Homo sapiens: one gene and its partners. The protein of the gene in region 2 purifies or fractionates together with the protein of the main gene of each other region. This does not show direct contact. Each region holds a gene or a part of one and is shown on either strand. Other genes may lie near its edges.

What was found.
Region 1: the proteins of SLC4A11 (region 2) and TMEM33 purify together in Homo sapiens (affinity purification with mass spectrometry; one large-scale study listed by BioGRID and IntAct). This does not show direct contact.
Region 3: the proteins of SLC4A11 (region 2) and THEM6 purify together in Homo sapiens (affinity purification with mass spectrometry; one large-scale study listed by BioGRID and IntAct). This does not show direct contact.

The regions. Positions count from the first base shown.
Region 1 is NC_000004.12:41,933,861-41,939,081, reverse strand, and holds the start of TMEM33 (transmembrane protein 33), read right to left. Parts: upstream 3,654-5,221; 5' UTR 3,598-3,653; coding exon 3,553-3,597; intron 481-3,552; coding exon 386-480; intron 1-385. UniProt on the Homo sapiens protein: Acts as a regulator of the tubular endoplasmic reticulum (ER) network by modulating intracellular calcium homeostasis. Mechanistically, stimulates PKD2 calcium-dependent activity. Suppresses the RTN3/4-induced formation of the ER tubules.
Region 2 is NC_000020.11:3,236,020-3,241,386, reverse strand, and holds the start of SLC4A11 (solute carrier family 4 member 11), read left to right. Parts: upstream 1-2,196; 5' UTR 2,197-2,249; coding exon 2,250-2,292; exon of another isoform or gene 2,293-2,407; intron 2,408-2,523; exon of another isoform or gene 2,524-2,542; intron 2,543-2,637; exon of another isoform or gene 2,638-2,839; intron 2,840-3,197; exon of another isoform or gene 3,198-3,322; coding exon of another isoform or gene 3,323-3,494; exon of another isoform or gene 3,495-3,707; coding exon of another isoform or gene 3,708-3,798; coding exon 3,799-3,843; intron 3,844-5,367. UniProt on the Homo sapiens protein: Multifunctional transporter with an impact in cell morphology and differentiation. In the presence of borate B(OH)4(-), acts as a voltage-dependent electrogenic Na(+)-coupled B(OH)4(-) cotransporter controlling boron homeostasis.
Region 3 is NC_000008.11:142,733,296-142,738,075, reverse strand, and holds the end of THEM6 (protein THEM6), read right to left. Parts: intron 2,751-4,780; coding exon 2,637-2,750; 3' UTR 1,149-2,636; downstream 1-1,148.

The sequences.
Region 1 (5,221 bases), on a different chromosome or scaffold from region 2:
AAATTACATGAACTTATTCTACCGTTTTAATAGCTTCACTTCATATATATGCCCAACTGAATTTCTTATAATCAATTTATAAAATTGAATTTTATAAAGCAGGACCTTCCTGTCAAGTAATAAGTAAAAATGAAAAAAACATGAACTTATCTCATTCCCACACATCAATTTTTCCTTGGATTTTCAATGTGTTAGTTTCACAAAGCACAAGATATAAAATATTCCTCTGATAATGTTATTAGGTTGTTAGTACCTGAAGGCTGGAACTTGTATTTTATTTGTCCCTAAACCCTTTACAGGTTAATAAGTCTTACACCTAAAAGGCACTCCATATAAACTGACTCAACAATTGAATATCAAAGGCAGCAATATGTATAATACATACCCAAGAAGAGGCAGAACAAACAGAGCAGAGCAGTAAACTGTGAACAAGCGAGAAAGCCACATTGCCGTGTCCAGTTTATTGGTCATCATGAATTGCTAAATTTAAAAAGAAAAATACTGTAAGCTATGCCTGCAAATCATGTTTTTAAGCATCAAGACTGTGTGGTTTTTATGTCTACTCAAAATATTTTAATCTTCCTCCATTTGTTTTTTTAGATCATTAGGTGAAAACTCTAAGGCAATTACATGTTTCATGTATATGCTTAATGAGAAGTCCAAACACCTTATAGTTTTCATGTGGAAAGCACAAGAAGTACTTAAACAGAAATAAATAGAAAAATATCAGCTGACATTTTAAAAAAATGCAAAGACTAATTAATTAGAAAAAATAATCTTAACAGAAATTCAACTACAATTGTCTGTGTTCCTTTAACACTTGCAATATTGGCTTCATCTATTTTAAAAGAACATTAAACAAAAACTAATTGCTCTCAAGAGATCCATATGCCTATTCTTAGCAAAAAATCTCAAATCCGAATAGGTAGGTCTCAGAGCTGAGTAAAACATCACATAAAGCCAGTTGGGATTAAAGAAACCTTTTGAAGAAGAAATATAAAACCATGATAGTAGTAACAACTAAACTCATTCGCCTTGTAATCTGCCTACATGCACAAGGGCCTGGCATACTCTAGGTGCTCAAAATGTGGCTGACAGGTATTAAATGGCCACCTGCCTCTCTGATTACACCACTCTCTTTATCACCTCCATGTTCCCCCACAAGTCTTACCCTAGTTTCGGTGGTCCTAGATTAAACTTTCCTATACCATTTTCTTCCCCCATTTTTTTCCCATTCTATCTTTCCTTTGCTGCTTTCCCCCCAATACTTATGTCTATTACCACTAAAGCAGAATCTTAAAATGTGTTTTCTCATTAAAATGTATCTTATATTCAAAAGTGGCTTTTACATTTTTTGTCTAGGATCTTCGTAATTTTAACATTGAGATCCATATACATGGATATATAAACAAAAGTTTCACAAATATTTACCCTACTGTATATAATGGATTTTGACATTTTCTATTTAATTTTTTAAAAATAGCTGGTGTTTACACTAAACTGACTTCTCAACTCACTAATGGGTCTACCTGAAGTCTAAAAACACTGCTCTATGTAATTTAATTTCATTATCTTTTGAAAAAAAAATATAAAAAATTTGAGGGAAAAATCCAAGTACATTGTAAAATTCCAGGCTGTTTTATTTTATGTCTTTTTAACCCACATGTAGGTAATTTCAGAAATATGAAATACAACTTTGATTTATCATTAAATCCAGACTTACCGTACTGTGACTCCAATAAACTGAAATGATTAGCAGTAATCAAGTGAAGGATGAATCCAGCTTACTGTGCTCAGTTTCTCAACAAATATTATGACTGGGCACCACAGCTTGAAAGTTAGTTTTAGAACATTCTCCTTAAAATCTATTTGTTCAGGTTGTTTATTCTGCAATAAATCATTGAGCTATGCGTTTCATTTTGTACACACTTATGTATATTATACAATTTTAAAAGTTTAAGAAAGTCTATTGGTATACATTTTTTAAGAGTAAACTGTCCAACCATCAGGCAAAAAAAAAAAAAAATCACTAGATCTTTGGGTGAAAAATTGTTGAGGAGCAATATTCACACAGTGTCACAGTATCATGCCAAAGAACACTTTTTAATTAGAAAGGAAAAAAGGTATCTTTACAATGGAGAAACTGGTGGACACCACCTTAATCAAATAATCAAACAAATTCTGCAATGATGGGATAAATCAATGTAAAATGCTTCCTGATATATAATATAGATATACATATTAGATGTACCTATATATGCTGCAAAACATGTCTGGACTCTTGAAAACTATCAGTATCTTAAAAGACAAAAAAGGGGAGGAGAGGGCAGAACTGTTCTAGATTAAAAGGCAGTAAACAAGATATGGCCAGTAAATTGAATGCATGCTTTCTGAGATAGGGTCTCGCTCTGTCACCCCAGGCTGGAGCGCAAAAGCACAACCCACCTCAGCCTCCTGAGTAGCTGGGACTATGCTGGGACTATAGGAGCGCACCTCCACGACCGGCTAATTTATGTTTGTTTGTTTGTTTGTTTGTTTTGAGAGAAGGTTTTGCTCTATCACCCAGGCTGGAGTGCAGTGGCGCGATCTTGGCTCACGGCAGCTTCAACTTCTCGGGCGCAAGCGATCCACCCGCCTTGGCCTCCCAAAGTGCTGAGATTACAGGCGTGAGCCACCACGCCCCGCCTAATTTCTTTGATTTCTAGTAGAGATGAGGTCTCGCTATGTTTCCAAGGCTGGTCTCTAACTCCTGAACTCAAGCGATCCTCCCGCCTTGGACTCCCAAAGTTCTGGGCTTACAGGAGTGAGCCACTGCGCCAGCCCATCGATGCATGCTTTTTGACAGAATCCCAGATGAAGAGAAAGCAGCTTTAAAGGACAATTATGGAAATTTGCACATGGATTTTATATTAGGTAATATTTCCCAAATGTGGTAACTGCATTGTGGTCACACAGAATAATACTTAACTACTTATGGATTAAAAAGTAGAGGACAGCAATGCTCCGGGCACAAATAACTTGTTAGCTCCAGATCAGCATCTTAAAAAAATTACAAAAGCATAATGATATTTCTCTTCATAAAGAACAAAGTGAAGAAGAAAAAGACCACCGCTCTCCTCCCTTTGCATAATTTCTATATACGATTGTATAAACTAGGCAGAAACGTTCTTTGCCGGCACTCGTGTGCTCCACGTGGTGTGTGTCATGGATCATGTGTGTCATGGCACAATCTCATGCGGCATCTTTAACCTTGGGGCCTACGGTAAACAAAAGACCGAGGTGGGAGAAGAGGAAAGAAGGCCCAATTTCCATGGCATACAGGTGGGGGCCACCAGCTCCAGGTCAGCCTATTGTCGCTTCAGAAACAAACTTGTAGTTCCCTCCATATCTTCGCTCAGGACCTCCCCTCTCCCCGCTCCAACTTCCCCACCCCAACTCATTAATCCCATTCCTGAATGCACTGAGCTTCTGGAACGCCTCGGGACTCGCAACGCTTCCTGCTTCTTCCTAACTCTTGCAAATCAAGCCAGACTACCCTGCCCTCGCACTTACCACAGCGCCCGCCCCTTGGGGGCCGTTCGGGGTCGTATCTGCCATGGGGGCTCACACTAGCGTCTGCGACGCCGCAACCGCGAAGAGAGAAGAAAGGGGAGAGAAAACGTCAGCGCTGGGGCCAGGACCCGGGTACCGGCTTCCCTGCCTCGCGCCACACACAGGCCGGATGCACCCTGCCGGAACTCTGAGCCTCCACCAGGGAAGGGTCTCGCTCGCCTGGTGCAGCCGACTGGATCCAGGGCACCCGCAGCAGCCGGGAGGTACCTGTCCCGCACCGCCGAGATCAAAGCGGTGTTTCCAGAAAGACGGGAGCGAAGGTGGAGCTTCGGGGTGAAGCCCTAAAGAGCCAACCTACGCCGCCGGCTCCAGGTTATTGCCGAACCCGGAAGTGCTCCTTTCATTTCCGTGGGGAAGAGGCGGTGACAAAGAGGGGGAAACGGGAGCGGTGCCCAGAGGCATGACGGGAAGTGTGGTTTTTTTCTCCTAATTTGAGCCCCACCTGTCCTTCCGCCGATTGGCCCAGTGAGCTAAGAAATCAGGATGGGGGAGCAACTTTTGCATTAAATACAGCTCACAAATGATCTTTCCTGCCCATTCTCAAACCATGAAATTTCCGCACTTCCTGATATAGAGGCCTCAGAAACATCTTTGATTCCTTTCTCCAGGGGCTTACTAAGCCCGTTGGTTCTACGTCTATTATTAATTCTTTCAATAAGTATTTATGAGGCCTGCTATGTGACAGGCTCCATACTTGGCACGGCGGATAAAAAGAGGAATATGACACAGATTGCAAAAGAGAAACAAGTAAACGGAAATCAGAGCATAGTGATTGTGTAATATGTGTAGAGGCTGATTTAATCACAGGGAGCACAGAGGACGGTACCTAAATCAGAAGGGATCTGGGGAGGTTTCCTGGAAAAGGTAAGTCCGGGCCTTGATCTTGAACGACAAAAAGTTGGCTGAAAGTGTTACTGGTGTAGGGTGTCCAAGTTCTTGGCGTTTTGAACATAGAATTGGACAAAACGCACAAAGCAAGGAAAGAATAAAGCAACAAAAGCAGAGATTTGTTGAAAATGAAAGTACACTCCAGAGTGTGGGAGAGTGAGACAGCAGCTCAAGGGCCCTGGATACAGAGTCTTCTCGGGTCCAAATACCCCCTAGAGGTTTCCCATTGGCCACTTGGAGTTCACTTCATGTAAATGAAGTGGTGGCCCGCAATCAGTCTGAATGGTTGCGCAAAGCAACCAATCAGAGGCTGAAGAAGTTACAAAGTTACACTTCTATGCAAACGTCTGATTGGTTACAAAAAGCAACCAATCAGAGGTACTTTCAATTTCCCAAATCTGCGCAGAACAGGTTGGGGCTTGCAAAGGGAGTAGTATCTGGCCCTTTATTCACTTAAGCGTGGACAGTAAGGATTTTCCTTCAATTTAGTTCTAGGAAGTCAGCGAGAAAGGGCATTAGGTTCCCTACCGCCATACCATATTCTTCTGCCTTAAAACGGGAAGGGAACTCCATACAGAGTAACAGAAAGTGCAAGAAGTAACAGGACAGCGAGAGGACTAGTTGAGTGTGACCAGAATGATGGTACCAGTCAGGGGATTGTGAAAGATTTGCGCTAGAGAGGCAGGCAGGGGTGTACTGAGGAAAGGATCTGAACTTGACC
Region 2 (5,367 bases):
CAAGATAAGTGGCATCAGGGGAGGACAGCAGAAAACTGTTAAGTGCGCCTTGTGGAACCCAGCGGTTACAGTTTCAAGTCCACAGCCCAGTAAAGTCTGAGACCCCAAGGGAGGGAATGAGAGGGAAAGTGGGTGCCTGCGTCTGGGTCCCTCAACCTGCCTGCCTATGTAAGGACCCAGTGGGGCACAGGACAGGAGATCTGGGGCACCAGTATTTGCCTTCAGCGTCAGACGATCTACACAGGACAGGAGGCAGGTGGGAGGACTGAAGGAAACAGCCTCTGAAACGGTCAGTCTGGAGGCAGCAGGCGTGTGGGCCTCAGGGGTTCCCTCCAGGAAGGCCGAGGGAACAGAACCGCAGGGGCAGAGCACAGGTGTAGCAGAGAAGGGCTCAGTGCCAGTTCCTTTGAGAGACGGTCAGGGAGCGGACAGAGGGGGCCCATAGCCGACTAGGGGCGGCTTGGTCATGGGCTCCTCTTTCCTCAGTGGGCTGAGGGGTTAGGTCCTTTGAGGAGCGCTGAGGAGACTGTGGTAAGGGGAAGCGCCCTCCATCCCAGAGGCTTTCCTGGAACAAGTGGGTTGGAAGGACCAGGTGTTTGGGAGCTGCTGGGAGCAGGTGCAGAAGCCAAGGCATTCCCAGATGGGGGAGACTGGGGGTGGCAAGGTGGCTTTTCAGGGATCCAGCCTGCATGCCACCTATGCAGCCATGCTCCGGGGGCGACATCCGCCTGTGTCCTTCAGCTCTTCCTCAGCCTCCACCCGCCACCCGGGAGTCAGTGCCTGGACTGGAGCTCTAGCTGGAGGGCGTCTAGGAAAGGTCCCAAGGGGTGCGCAGGATGACCTGGTGTCTCTCCAGAGTCACCCCTGCTAAAATACTATGTGGCCAGCCCCAAGTCAGTTGCAGGTCATGGTGTTGGGATCTTCCACAAGGCCTCCTGGAGTCGCGCTGGGGGAGGGTGGGGTACTCAGTCTGTCGCAGAGCCCCAGGCCATCCGTCGCCAAGAGGAGCACTCCAGCGCTTCCCTCCTAATGCGTTCTTATCTTGCCGGGAGGAGAACTGGGCCAGCCTTACTCACCCAATCTATGCATGAGGCTTCCCCAACGCGCCAGAAGCCCTTCCTTCGCAGAGGTGGGCTTGCCCCGGCCTGTCCCCGTTCCTCTACCATGGTTAGGGCACAGTGGCCGAGGACTCCGTCCCAGCGCGGCTGAGCCGGAAAGCGATGGCGGCCGGAGGGGTCGGGAGGTTGGTTAGCGCTTTACGGAGCTGCGTGTTCCGTTTCCAAGGGCTGTAGAGCCTTCTACTGGGAGCCACCGTGGATCAGGCCAGGGGTTCGTCAGCTGCATTTGCCGGATCGCATCGCAGCACGCGCACCCACACGCGCACACGCCCTACTCGCAGGAGACTAAGCGCCCCGAAAAGGCGCGTCCCCGGGCGGGTCGCAGCCGGTCCAGGAAAGGGGACAGGGCGCAAGGGCCATTTGGGGAAGGAAAAAGGGGGCGAACCATGACCTTGACCTCATAGAAGGCCGAGGACGTGAAGAGGCTGGCAGATAAGTTGGCGAGGCTCGCAGCGAAAACCCAAAGCAGCCGAGCTCGGAGAGCGCCGTCTCAGCGGGCGAGGGCGTAGCCCGGGGAATGCACGGAGGTCCGTCTAGTCAGTCGGGGCGCGCTTCCTGGAGGAGGAGGAGAAGGACTTGCGGCCGGAGCTACCGGGATAAATGCAGGAGGCGGGGCAGCCAGCGGGCGTGGCCCTGCGGAGGTCCCCGGTCGAAAGGAGGAGACAGGGGCCGGCCGCGTACTTAAAGCGGACGCGGGGGAAGCCCTCCCGGGGTCTGCCTCAGTCGCACAGCTCGGTGGGCTCGTGGCGCAGTCGAACGTTTTCCCAGAAGCTCCCCGGCCCCGTCCAGCCCCTAAACTCGCGACGCTGGGTCTGCTGGGTCCGGCGCGCACAGGCTCGAAGGAGCCGGGTCTACTCGGTTTGGCCCAGCAGCTGCGGGCGGCGGGGAGCAGCCCAGCCCGGCTGGAGCAGCCTCCCGCGGGTGAGGGCGCGGGGCGGGCGGCCGGGTCCCAGCCCTCGGCAGCTCTGCCTACCGCGCCCGGGCGCGGCGTCTGAGCGGCATTAGGACCCAGGCGCGGCGTGGGGGTGTGTCGCCGGCTCCCGCCGCCGGCCCGCCCGAGTCGCCGAGTTTGGGGTCCAGAAGCGCCGGAGCGCCGCGTGAGGAGCCCGGCCGTGAGTGCGCGAGTGTGCCATGGCCGCGGCCACCAGGCGCGTGTTCCATCTGCAGCCGTGCGGTGGGTGCCTGAACCCGGGGGCGCGGCGGGAAGGCCGCCCGGGTCTCCGCCACCGTCTCCCGTCGGGGACCCCGGGGAGAACGCGGATGCCGTCTGCCTGCGCGGGCCGGGGCCGGTGGGCGAGAGGGCTGCGGGATTCCCAGCCGCGGGGAGGAGGGCGCGGGTGCGGGAGGCCCGGGCGCGGCTTCGCGGCCACCGCGCGCTTGGTTTCATTAGGGCTCTGCTGTCGCCGTCTTGAATTTCTTACCAGGTTTGAACAGCTGATGCAGCGGGTCGAGGGCGGGGAGCTCGAAAGTGGGCAGGGCGGAGCTGTGGGGCTCCCAGCGCCCCGAGCGCCGAGCTTTTGGGAGCCTGGCGGGCCGCCGCCTCGGAAGGTCTCATTTTACCTTCCGCCCGGGCATCTTCCCGTCCGGCGCCGCGGTGGGAGCCCCGGAACCCCTGGAGTTTTGGGAGTCCCGGGACCCCTGACCGTGCCCTGCGCGGCCGCAGCGGTTTCTCCCTTGCTCTGACACGGGAGGGCCAGCCCTGGGTCCCCGCCAGGACCCAGGTTTGTACGACCCTTTACCTGCACGTGGGCCGCCGGGACGGAAGCGGAGTGTGCACCGGCCCAACCCTCCCAGACCCTCGTCGCCCACGGCCTGGGACGCGCCCCAGCGCCCCCGCCCCCCACTTCAGGATGCAGCCCCGGCTCCCGCCCCGCGCCTGCATTCACATCCTGCGCCCCGACCCCCGGGGTCTCCGAGTCTGGAGGCGCTTTCCTCTCGTGCACGCGGCCCCTCCTGTCGCTTCCTTCCTCCGACAGCGAGGCACAAACAGCCGGGACCATCCGGGGACCGGCCCAGGGAGGGCGCAGCCTCCCCCGACCCATGTGTCCCTCAGATACTCCTCCCACCCCCAATTGTTCTCCCTTTTGGACCAACGGCTCTGGCTTCCAGGCGGCCGGGACGCGGTCCCAGGACTGGAGACCGTTGCCTGTCGGCCCCCGTGTGACCCGGGGCGCGTGACGGGGGTCGGGGGAACTGCGCCTGCAATGGGCGTTTATGGCCCCCAGGACCGGTCTGAGAGTGAGAAGAGGGATGTGCAGAGAGATCCCCCGCCTTGGCATCCGAGGAGAGAGGGGGAGAGGCCCGCTCGGGCCCGGTCCCTTCCTCTCGCTGCAGCGGGGCAGGGTTTTCTCAGGAAAACCTGGATTAGCGAACATGGTACTGGTACTAACTCGGTGGGAAGACATCCCTGGAACGTCTCTCCTCCTCGCCTCTGGCCCGCCTGGGCAGCCCCTAGCAGATGGGCTAAGCAATTGAATTTCTGAGATTAAGGCTGGCTTCCCCTGCTATGGGGCCCCCTCCCGAGCACTGTCCCCTGCTTCCCTTTCTCCCTAGGGTGGCGTGGGTTGCATCCCTCGGAAGAGCGAAGGAATGAGCCAGGTCGGGGGGCGGGGAGACAGGTGCACACAGGAGGTCCAGGGCTTGGTCCATGGGGCTGGTGACCTTTCTGCTTCCCTTGCAGAAAACTCTCCCACCATGTCGCAGAATGGATACTTCGAGGATTCAAGTGAGTACCTCTCGGGGAGTGTGTGTGTGCAGAGAGAGCTTGTCGGGCAAAAGCCTCCAGGGTGCATAGCCTACCCACCAGAGTCCTGTGGCTTTGCTCGCCTATCTGGGCCACTCTAGTGCTGGAATGCTTTTGGCTTCCACTCTTCGGGAAGCTAGACATGGGCGGATCCCCCGTGGACCTGAGAGGGCAGGCTGCCCATTCTCCTGGGCTACTTGGACCAGGTGAACCCTCTGGGATTCTTACCCAAGGTTTTCTGTGACAATGGCCTGTTATCTGACTAGCCTTGGGCCAAGAATTCTGTGTGCCCCTGTCCCTCTGTCCTCACCCAGCCCTGGAGGGAATATCTGTCGTTGTCTCTTTAAAGAAATATAAGGCCTCTGTGCTGCAGTCCCTCGGGCACCTTCCTGCTGTCCCTGCTTGTACCAGTCCAGCTGTCTTCCTCCTCATGTCTCTGGGCTGGCTTCAGGCTGTGTCCTGTGCCTAGCCCCATGAGTGACCTGACCATTCGAGGGTTGTTTGTAGAGCAGTGCGTAGACACAGGGCTGATGTTCCCTTACCCAGAGCCCTCAGGACATGGGGCTCTGTGTGCTAGGCTGCTGGTGGGCAGGTTACGTATGGGGCTGGGACTAGGACTTGGCATTGCAGGAGCCCCCCAGGAACCTGGTAGTGTCAGCTGGGCAGGTCCTTAATCTAGGGGACCTGAGCACTAAGTCTAAGGTAGAGCTGAGGGCATCAGGGGAAGAATGGGGGAAGAACGGGGCTGTGTGAAGGGCAGTGGAGGGGACTAGTGGGTGCTGGTTGAGGGGCAGAGGGGAGGCTGGGACAAGTTCGGGCCAGGGGAACCAGACAGTTTAAACAAGGCAAGCCTGACCCGGGGAGGAAGGAGTTTATCATGAGCTCCAGAACCAAAGCAGTGAGGACGTCTTTTGTTTTGTTTTGTTTTGTTTTGTTTTGTTTTGAGTCTCGCTCTGTCGCCCAGGCTGGAGTGCAGTGGTGTGATCTCGGCTCACTGCAAGCTCTGCCTCCTGGGTTCACACCAGCCTCCTGCCTCAGCCTCCCGAGTAGCTGGGACTACAGGCGCCCGCCACCACACCCGGCTAATTTCTTTTTGTATTTTTAGTAGAGACAGGGTTTCACCATGTTAGCCATTGTTAGCCAGGATGGTCTCGATCTCCTGACCTCGTGATCCGCCTGCCTTGGCCTCCCAAAGGCAAGGATGTCTTTTGACCTAATATTTCTTCTCTGGGCTCTGGAGGTAGTGCAGGCCTGGGCCTGGGAGTCACCAGTCCCTGGGGACTTTGATGCAGGAGGCACTAGGGCTTCCTACCCAGAAGGGGCCCAGGCTAAACTCAGGACACTGGGGGAACAGGGCCTGGGATGTGCCAAGGAAACTGGCGGCGGGAGTAGAAGTGAGTCAGGGTGAGTCACTCCCTGGCAGGTGCAGGCGTGCTGCTGACCCATCCTTGTTTCTGCACAGGTGTCTGTCAGGCATCAGTGGGGTCTGGGCTATAAGGGCCCCTT
Region 3 (4,780 bases), on a different chromosome or scaffold from region 2:
TCAACCACCTTGAAGCTTGCCCGTTGCCTGCGTGCACGTGCGCACACACACACACACACACACAAATGCACACAGGCACGCACATCCATATGCGCACTGGATACACTCATTCCTAGTCCAGTCACTGAGCCCTACTCCCTATCCAGGCCAATGTGCCTTCCACGACCCAGAGGTAGCTGCTGAGCCAGGGACCGCAGTGGCATCATCACATGGTGCCCTCCCAAGGCCCAGGCACCCTGTCCTGTGGCCCCCGCCCTGCTCCAGGGCTCAGGCAGATGGTCAGGACCATCAGCTGGACGGCATCCCTACAGCTTCATCTGCAGCCCCACTGGGAAGCTTGTCTGGCAACACTCAGCTCACACACCTGTGGCGACCCCACGAGCCACCTCCCCCAAGGACCCCAGAGAAAGCACAGAGGCTTCTGGCCAACCAGTCTGGCTACAGACCCCAGATTTGCTGAGCAAGTTTGCTTCCCCTCCCCAGCCCTACTGCCCCATCACTAAATGCCGGTTTCATAGCTGTTTCCAACTGCCCACTCCTTCCCTGGCCCTCAGAGCCTTCTGGACCCTCCCAGGAAGGTGGTCACAGCATGGACGTGGCCACACCCCGCCTCACTCAACTTTATGTCCCGGAGGGTCCCACTTCTCCCCACCCCTTTTGAAGGGCCTGCAGAACAGCCCCCATGCTCTCTCTGCCTCCTGTCCACCCACCAGTCCATTGACCTCTGCCCCCAATGGCTACCAGCACCCTGCCCGAGGCTCTGGGAGCCTGGAGGGCCAGACCCAGAGTCTGAGGCATGACCGCCAGGGTAATCCCTGAAGGAGGGAAACCGGGAACCTGGCGCTGGCATCTGTAGATGGGGCTGCAAGCCTCGAGAGCTGGGAACCAGGAGGGCCGGAGCAGGAAGGGCTGGCTCCCCAGGGGGCTTTGGACAGCACCTTCTTGGCCTCAGTCCTATGCCCCATGGGATGAGGACAAGCCCTGCCCTGCCAGCCTGATCCCTAAGTTCACGGGAGCCCAACAAACCTGGATAGCCCCCCATGCCAGACACCCATCTTGGGAATGTGCCCCAGCTTCCCTGGTCCCACCTCCGCCCCTGCATGGATGGTGGTGGTGGTAGCTCAGAAACAAGGCCCTCCCCAGCACGCTTGCAATGAAAACCCTTTAATGTTGGGCTTTCTTTAAATAAAACAGAAAGGTTGCAGCTTTCCCATGGTGGCTGTAAGGCAAGAACAGCAGTGAGGGCGGGCGTGTTCTATCGGGCAGTGCTGCAGCCCTTGACTCTGGCTCAAGGTGGGCTTCCTGGAGGCAGCGGCAAGGAGGCAGTTCTGGATGTGCAGGCACAGATGTAGGGGAACAGGCAAGCGGGCACAGGGCCCTGAGCTGACAAGCAGTGACCCCTGCACCCAGCTAGATGGGGCACCCCCTCTCTGGGAGCTGAGGGCATCAGCTGGAGCCTCAGGCTGGGACCAGCCCCAACTTTGCCTTGGTGACTCTGGGCCATTCCAGGCCTCAGTTTCCCCAGCTGTAAGGTGAGGCATTAGGCAGGAGGGGGTGGCCCCAGCCAGTGTCCTAGTAGCCTGGTGTCTCCATTAGGGAGACCTGAGAAGCTGCCAGGAGAGGCTCTGCTAGCGCAAGGCAGGGCCGGCCCAGCAGCTGACAAGGAACATGCTGAATATAGAGGACAGAGGAGTTAAGAAGACGCCTGCCGGCCAGGCCAGAGAGGGGCAGCTCTAAGGGGGTACAGCGGCCTGTGGTGCTGTAGGCCCAGAAAGGGTGGGGATCAGCCCAAGTCACAGAGCATGGCCCTGGTGGGCGGCGAGGGGTGCGAGTGGACAAGGACACCCCTGCAGAGTCCCACCCCCACTCTATTCCCTCCAACAAGGGAACGCCCAGCAGGAAGCCTGCTGTCTTTCCAGGAGCCCCTGTGCCACCTAGTCTGACCCCTCTCAGCCACAAGGCTACCCTCCCGTCCAGCCTGACTGGAGGTAGAGGAGGAGGAGGAGGCAAGGCCGACTGCAGTGGGGAGCCCGGGTGCCCCGTCCTCTGTCAGCAAATGCCTCCCTTCCATCTGCCTCTAGCCCCGGCCTCTGACCACCCAGGCTCTGCCCCAGGCCTGCAACCACCTCAGCGGAAGCCAGAGGGGCTGCCTGGCAGATGCCGCTCTGACCCTTCAGGAGTGCCCACTGCACCTGAATCAGGCCCAGGCCCTGGAGAGCCCAGGCCTGTACCCAGGATGCTCTGGTCTGGCCCTGCCTCGGCCCTTGCAGTGGTCCGAGCCAGGATCTAGGCTCGGGAGGCACTTGTGGGTCCCTCTGCTCCAGGCACCATCCTCCCCTACCTAGGCCCACATGAGTGGCCTCATCGTAGGGCCAGGCAGGACTCTCCTTTGCCCATCCATCCCCACCTTGAGGGCAGAGCTGGGTCAGGATGCCAATGCCACTCCTCCTTCTGCCTAGCGTGGAGCCCAGCACAGAGGGGTATCAATAACTGGGGGGGCCCAGTGGGTGGAGCAGGGTGGGCCAGGCTGGTCAGGAGGCTACTCCAGCTGGAACAGAGTATGGCTGAGACTGCCCATCTGTGGGCAGCCCCCAGGCCCAGGATGGTGGCCAGGGCAGACGGTGTGAAGGTGGCGGTCACTGGTCCTTGGTGACATCACTGAGCCCACTCTCCATGCGGAGCAGCTGGCTGCTGGCCTCGTTGTAGGAGATCCAGTGCTGCAGATCAGCGGGCAGCTCAGGGGGCTCCACCTGCAGAGGACAGAAAGGGGACACCCAGCTAAGCTACGGCCTTCCCACCTCTGGGCCGCTGCCCACACTGCTCCCCAGCCCGTGACCTTCCAAGATCCCCTGCCCCGCCGCCTGCCATGCTTTGCCCATGCCTCCCCAGGCTCTGCACACTTGTGCTACCCCTGCATACCCACCTTGACACAGCCCCGCTTGTGCCTGGCCCGTCTCCCCTAGGGGCCATCCCCAGAACCCAGCCAGAAACCCGTGAAGTTGGCAGGTTGGGAAGGGCAGAGAGGAAATCCAGAGGCCTCAGGGTGACAGGGGACAGAGGGGTGGAGGGCCAGCATGGGAGCCCTCCTCCAGGAAAGTACCAGACAGGGCTCACTGAGTTCTCTTCTTTCTCCAGGGCACCCAGAGGATGGCACTTCATCCCCCAGGGCAGCCTGGGCCTGACCACTCCACTATCAACCCTCTCCACACACACAGCCACCATGTGGCAATGGGAGCCAGGCTCCAGGCCACTCCTGAGGGGTCCACAGCCTTGCAGATGGGCATTGGGAGCTCCCAGGATGAGGGGACAGGCCAGGCACAGGCCCACCCCCACTTCAGGGTGAGCAGCACACAGAGGTGCTCAGAGATAAAGCCCAGACCTTCCCTGCAGATGAGTCGTGACCCCCATGGCAAGTCCCAGCAGAGCTGGGCCTGGACTCTCCCCTGGACCACTCCCCTCCCCACCTAGTTTCAACCATGTGACCAACACTCACCCCAGCCCAGCTCTTCCTCTTTGGCCACATCACCGCAGGCCAGCCTCTCAACATGCAAGACCCAACCCTGGCTCAGCCTGCCCAAACTGCAGCCGCGGTCTTTCCACATCATCGACAGAGTCTCTGCTGTTCTGGGTCCCAGCCTTCACCTCCCACAGGGACCTCACCAACCAGCCCATGCCTGATTTTATCACTCCCTCTTTCCCAGAAAAGCAACCCTGGCTCCCCATCTCCTCGGCCTCCGTGCCCGGCTCTCAGCCTTGGTGGCCTTTGCCTCTGGACTCTAGATGCATGAAAGACATAGAGTCCAGCACCTGGGGACAGAGAGAGATCTAGGCCTTTTAGGGGGTTCCTGACTGTAAACCAAAAATAACATCGGAAGGTACCCCCAACCATCTGAATGAACTTCCTCCAATAGGCCAGGGCCCTCCACATTTAACCAGAAAGACTAGCCCAGGCCATGATAGAAGAGGGTGTGGGACAGGCCTGTTATGCCCTCCAGCATTAACAACACAGACCTTAAGTCCGACAAGAAACATTTATGATCTATTCCCTCTGAAGCCTGCAGCCTGGAGGCTTCATCTGCATAATAAAACCTAGGTCTCCACAACCAGTATCTTAACCCAGACATGCCTTTCTACTGATAATAGCTCTTTCAACCAACTGCCAATCAGAAAACTTTTACATCTACCATGACCTGAAAGCCCCCCTTCCAGATGGCATCAATGTGAATCTTACATGTACTGACAGATGTATTGTGCCTCCCTGAGATGTATAAAAGCAAGCTGTGCCCCGACCACCTTGGGCACATGTTGTCAGGACTGGTGAGTCCTTATCCTTGGCAAAGTAAACTTTCTAAATTGACTGAGACATATCTCCGATACTTTTTGGTTCACATGACTCAACAGAAACAGAAGACCAGGGAGCCGTGTAGCTTTGTGCAGTGCCATAGCTCCTCTGAGCCTCAGTTTCCCCATTCCTGACATGACCTCTCAGTGTCAGAGGCGCTGGAACCAGAGCGACTCCATTTTGAGTGAGGGCTGGGAAATGAGGCTGGGGCCTGCTGGGCTGCATCCCCAGAAAGAGGCATTCCGAGCCTCTAGATGTTTAGTTGTAAAGTAGAGGTTCCTCTTCAAAGACTTTCCTACCGATCTAATTAGGAATAAATAGTAACTTCTCTTAGAAGCAAAATTTATTCAAAGACCTGTGCTAACATTATTAAATATCTGCTAGCAGTAATAAAGAAAGCAATGTACTACTTTAGGTTCTTAGCTCCCACAATTTAGC